Linked DNA regions of Homo sapiens: region 1 is linked to region 2. The links come from fine-mapping of genetic effects on plasma protein levels. Region 2 holds a variant in brackets. A gene starts in the other region. All regions are shown on one strand. Distances are between the middles of the regions. Region 1 holds the start of FAM20A (FAM20A golgi associated secretory pathway pseudokinase). Region 2 overlaps SARM1 (sterile alpha and TIR motif containing 1).

What was found. PIP is the posterior inclusion probability: the model's chance that the variant is causal. The UK Biobank Pharma Proteomics Project read protein levels with antibody pairs (Olink). The fine-mapping took linkage between variants from a reference panel, not from the people measured, so its PIPs are less certain.
Region 1: FAM20A starts here. The variant in region 2 is fine-mapped to the plasma level of the FAM20A protein (UK Biobank, PIP above 0.99).

The regions. Positions count from the first base shown.
Region 1 is chr17:68,599,968-68,602,863 of GRCh38, forward strand. FAM20A (FAM20A golgi associated secretory pathway pseudokinase) reads right to left here and starts at 1,400. Exons shown (of 11, transcript NM_017565.4): 1 at 296-1,400. The coding sequence starts at 699.
Region 2 is chr17:28,396,634-28,399,499 of GRCh38, forward strand. It overlaps SARM1 (sterile alpha and TIR motif containing 1), which reads left to right. Exons shown (of 9, transcript NM_015077.4): 9 at 1-2,866. It overlaps SLC46A1 (solute carrier family 46 member 1), which reads right to left. Exons shown (of 5, transcript NM_080669.6): 5 at 1-2,866. Among named protein-coding and RNA genes, the nearest start is that of SLC46A1, 8.1 kb to the right of the region's middle. RefSeq lists enhancers at 415-1,098, 1,863-1,952. The variant G/A (reference allele first, on the strand shown) is at 1,616.

The DNA.
Region 1 (2,896 bases), 40 Mb after region 2:
TGGGGCTCAACGACGACCCAGGCGCTCAAGGGGAAGGGGCTGAGAGCGTTTCTTCGCTGTGCGGCTGCAATAGAAACTTTTTCCTCGTACTATCTGACTCCGGGACTGGACTGTGAGGTCTGCAACAGCTGGTGGGGTTCGGGTGGGGAACACACTCTAAGCCCAGCGCCAGGGCTGGAGCCGTGGGTGGAGCCGCTGCAGCCCTGGGCCGGGGGCGTCAGGAAACTCGAGACTGGGGCGCGGGGAGGCCCCGGCCAGAGCGCCCGCTCTCCCGCGTCCCGGGCGGGGTCCTCACCTGTTCCAGCGGGCCACCTTCCTCCGGTAATACCGCAGCGCCTCCTGGCTGGCCAGGAGCGAGTCCTCGGCTCCCAGGAGAGGCGGCTCCTCCGGGACGTTGTACAGCGGGTGGGCGAAGAGGGCCTGCAACTTGGAGCTCGACCCGCTGTGGCTGCCGCCAGCCGGTTCAGTCCGGGGCTCGGTTCGGGAAAAGTTGTGCACGATCGTGCCGGGGTCCGAGGCAGCTGCGGCCGAGTCCCGCGCCAGGGAGGAGGCGCGGCCGGTGCACGGGCACCCCCGCGGGCGCTCCCGAGGCCGCAGCTGGCGCTGTACTTGGGGCCAGAGGTGGAAGTAGAGGTCGGCGGAGAGCAGCGCGCCCAGCAGCAGCAGAGTCAGTAGGCGGTCCCGGCGCAGCCCCGGCATGGCGTGCTGGCCAAGGGGGACGCCGGGGGCAGGCCGGCTGTCTCCGGGGTCCCGGGAGGGGTCGCGGGGTGCGGGCAGAAGAGGTGCCTGGAGTCCCGCGGGTGGGCCGGGGTCAGTGAGACCGGAATGCTCCCCGCGCGGGCTAGTCCCCTGTGGAGGGGTGTCGCTCCTCAACTTGGGGACCAGGTGCACGGAGCACCGGGGCTCTCGGAGTCAGCGGGCGTCGCTTCTCCGCGCCGAGTGAGCCGAGGGAATGGGGTTCCCGGGGTGCCCGCTTCTTGCGCCTTTTCTCCCGTGCGCCCGCCCGCCCGGACGCTCGCGGCAGGTGAAGGGCCCCGGGGCGCCGGCGCCGGCTGCCACCGCGGGCGGACGGGCGACGGGGCGGGGGGCGACCGCGGAGGGCGGACGGAGGCCGCCGGCTGCAAAGCCCGGGGCGTCTCTCCTGAGGATGCTGTCGCTCGGCGGCGGCTGCTAGTGCTCCCGCGACTCCTCCTGCGGGCGGCGGAGACGCCAGTGCCGGCGGCTGGCACGGGCGGCGCGAGTGGGGAGTTGGCGAAGCAGGAGCGGCTCCGGGGAGCTTGTCTGTGCGCCTGGACTCCTAGAGGCAGAGGTAGCGCGGGGCCTCCCCGAGCCTGGCCTGGCGCCGGCACCCCCACCCACTCTCCGCTGGCACCTGCCTCTGGCGCAGCTGACGGCCAACTCCCGATCCGAAGCCGGCGCTGCCCTTGCACCTTGTCACCCACCCACTGCCTGCGCCCTCCCCCTCGCTCGGGCCTCCCACTTTCCCTGCCCAGGTCTCAATCCAGTCACTTTAAGGGACTCACGCGAGGGGTCCGAAGCCTCTTTTTACCATTTCTATTATTTTTAGGGAAAAAAAAACCACCACAAGCCCCCTAAAACCCTTTTTTTCCTGTAAGCTTTGCCAAATGAGTGTGTGGGGGGGGGTGGGGGGAGGCGGGGGTGGCAGTGTTGGTATCTGTTCTTTCTTTGTGTTCCCTTCCACCTCCGCCCCCCTGCAGAGCGCAGGGCACATCAAGATTCATAACAACTACCTACCACATGCCTGGCACATAGTAGGTGCTCAGGAAACACGCTCTTGGTGAAGGAAAGAGCTTGACCTTTAAAAGTAAGGTATCAGTTTTACCTAGAATCTTGCTGATTTCCTGTTTGGAAGGAGTTTGATTCCAACTCTGCCTGTACTTTAAAAAGAGGAAATGTTTCTTGCACTCAGGGAGGGAGGGGCCCTGATGACCCCACTCCGAACTTTTGAGTTTAGCTTGGTGTGAAAGTAGTCCACCCAAATGAATCACTGGAGGACACATTTAGGCTTTCTCCAATATTCTGTGAGGTAATGTACCCTCCCCACACCCAGTTTTCCTTTTGAAGAAGAGGGAGGGAGTCCTGAACTCCTGGCTCCTCTATTTAATGACCCCATAGTATAGTAAAGTGAAGTCTGATTGGAGAGGCGGCCCCACCCTGCTGAATTTCAGGAAATCCACCAGAAGCTGCTTGCCCAGGCAGCAAAGCTTCCCATGTAAGTTAGTTCTACTCTTTAACCCCCTCCCTTCCCTTGCTGGAATTGAGAACCCTCAGACATACTTTGACTTGTGGGTTCAGACCAGAGTTCTTTTCCCCGTGGTTCAGTGTAAGATTTCTTCGGGACTTTGCAGTCTCCTCAAATGTAAATGAAGATAATGATGGAACCTACCTCCTAAGGTTATTATGAGACTTAAATGAATTGAAGTACAATTATGTGTCACGTCTGAGAAATGCATCCTTAGGCAATTTTCCTGTGTGTGTGAACATCAGGGTGTACTTACACAAACCTAGATGGTTCAGCCTACTACACACGGAGGCTACATGGCATAGCCTGTTGATCCTAGGTACAAACCTGTACAGCATGCGACTACTGAATGCTGTAGGGAGTTGTAACACAGTGGTGAGTACTTGTGTGTCTAAACATAGGAAACATACAGTAAAAATACAGTATTGTAATCTTATGGGACCACTGTTGCATTGACTAAAATGTTATGTGGCACTTGACTATGTATAAATTACTTAGAAGAGCTCCTAACTCATCCTAAATAAGTGTGAAATATGTGTTTGCTATCATTATGATTACTTATTAGTTCCTGTAGTACACTAGGCTTGGTTAGAGACTGCTCATCGCTAGGACAAAAATAGAAAAGGATGGAAA
Region 2 (2,866 bases):
TTGAGGAGGATGACGGAAGGCAGCCTCAGACAGGAATTAAGGCAATGCCCAGGCGGGCCTGGGCACTGTATTCTGAGCAAGGGCCTGGGCCCAGGAGCCAGCCAGGGATGAGTGCCATCATGGCTCTCCACTCAGACTGTGCCTGGCCCCTGCACTTACAACTTCCTGCCGCTCTGTGGCCTTGCCCTGTAATCACTCAGTGCCCTTAGCTAGCCTGACTAAGTCCCAGATCCCCTACAGCTTCCTTCGGTGTGGTATCTTTTGCCACATCCAGGGCGAGGGTTGAGGCAAACCAGCCCTCCCTCTGACTTCCTTGTCACTGCAGCCAGCTTTGCTGCACTTGCTGGTGCACAGGAGCCTCCTGTTTGGGCCTGGGTCTGGGCATGGGGAGGCCGTGCCTCAAAGCCCACCCTACCCCATGCCTTGGTGCTGTGCCTCAGGCTCCTTCCTGGTCTGGCCCAGCTGGCTTCCCCAGCCCCTCAGCCATCCAGGGCTACCCACTGCTTACTCAGGGACCAGGCAGCCCCCATGGCAGTAAAAGCAGCCTAGACAGAACCTGCAGCTCTGTGGAAAGAGGCAAAGTCCTGAAAAGGCAAAGGGTTGTCACTTAGGGCAGCTTCTCCAACTTTAACATGCATCCAAGTCACCTGGGAATGTTGTTAAAATCAGGAGATCTGGGGTGGGGCCTAGGACTCTGCATTTCTTACAGATTCCCAGGTGAGCTGATGCTGGTGGTTAAGGGTAGCAAATCTCTAAAGCACGAAGCCCTCACAAATCTTTGCCATTTCCCAAACACTCCGCTCCATGGTCTCCAGTCATCAGAGCAACTCTACCTGGTATTATCATCCCCATTTTACAGATAATGACACTGAGGCTCAGAAAGGTTGAGGATAAGCCCACTTTCCTGTCATTAGTGGCAGCCCCAGATCCAGACCTAGGCCTCCTGGCACCCAGTCCACTGGCAGTGGAATTGCTTTCCTGAGAATCATTCTGAGGCTGGGCTATTGCTTCTCCCTTGCTTCAAAGAATCTAGCAGCGGGGGATAGGATTTTGCAACAAAAAGCTGACCCAGAGGCCATACAGAGCAGGAATATCCCATTGCCCCCTCCTCCACTGGGTTCAGAGGGTAAGAAAGCACCCTCCAATAAACCCAGGCTCCAGGCCGTGGGGGCTGCTGAAGGCTCTTTCCCCGCAAGGGCCAGGTGTTGACACCTTAAAGCTGGCTGCGCCCCCAGCCCCACTCTTGGCTGTGCTGGCCAGGTGACTCCTAGTTCTTGGCCACATCATCAGAAAGTCAAAGGTCTCACTCCAGGTTTGGGGCTCCTTCCTTCCACTCCCCTCCCTGCCAGAGTCTGTCTTGGCCAGTGCCAGCCTCGATGCTTTGGTTTTGACCCCACCTGATCCTCCTTTCCTCATGCAGCACAAGTGCTCACCGGGGCCAGAGCCAGGGCATGGATATGACAAGCAGGGCAGCCTGGACACTGCCCTCACAGGACAGCGCCAATAACAATACAGTGTCTGAGTATCTCCAGGGGATGATTTCTGGCTCTTTGTCTCCAATCAGTCCCACTCCCTCCTGAGGTCCCCAAGGGCAGTATTCAGAGAGGTTTCCTGC[G/A]TTTTATTTCTATTTGGTATACCCTCCACTGTTGTCCACTGCCCTGTGTGGCCTTCTGGTTGACCTCTGCCCGATCTTCTGTCTCTCTGAGGGAATCAGAGTCCAGCATCCAGCCCCAGCTGGAACAGCTGAAGTCACAAGCCTCCTCTAAGCCAAGGCCAGTGTGTTCAGAGGTGACTGCCACCCATACTAGGACAAACACAGCTCAGATCACCAGGTCAAGCACCTAGGCCTGGCTTCTCCTGAGACAGAGGACTCAGAAGTGGCCTTTCCTCCAAAGCCTGCTCAGACACAGGTCTGTAGGGCCAGGGTGTTCTGCTTGGCTGGGCTGCAGCTGCTACCCCTCGGTTGGGGCTGAGTCAGCCAGATCCTCCCCCTACTTCTCCCCAAGGGCCAAGAACTGCTCAGGGACATTAAAGGTCAAAAGTCCAGCCACACTCATTCATCCTTTCCCCAGGCCCATGAAGAGAGGCATCTCATTGTAGAATGTATGAGGAAGTGGGAAGTATCTCAGAGAATCAGCTAAGTTTCCTAACTTGTCCATCCAAATGTGATCACCACGATTCAACAATTTGGGGCATTGCTGATCTAGCCGTTCCTAGTGGGGCTTGCTCAAGGTTGCACAGCGAGTCAGTAGAAGCCCTGGCTGGCCCCACTTGGTACCAATCCACCAGGCAGCTCAGGGCTCCTGCCCAGCCCAGCAGCTTCTGTTGTCTAACGTATGGCAGGCAGACTGGGAGCAGGAAAACAGAGGGCCCCAAAGCCCAAGGCACCAGAAGGTTTGTTTCAGTTTGCTGAAGCTGATTTGTAATGATTGGCACTCTTCAGCCAGGGGAGTGGGTAGGCCATAGCCAAGGATCGATTCCCCAACCACAGCAAAGGCAACACTCTTCCTCCAGAGATCACCAAGCCCCTCTTACCTCCCTCCCTCCTTCCCAAGGCTGGCACTAACCAGGTACCACATTCATTGTTAAGGAATGGCTGATGACTGCTACACGTGTTGGGAACCTGGTTGGGGCTGTGCAGTTTGGGCTGGAAGGAGAGATGCCAGCCCTCGTGCTGCCTCTGGTCCCTGAAGTGTCACCTCTCTCAGGACCTCTCCTCTGGCCTGTGGGGTTATAAGTGATGGATAGCAGAAAGGGAGAACTGACTCCTGTCCCAAATAGCTCCTCTGCCACCTGTCCTGCAGTGGGCCTGTGTGGGTTATGATTCTAGATCCTAGACAGAGGCTGGGTCAGCTGTGGATGGGGT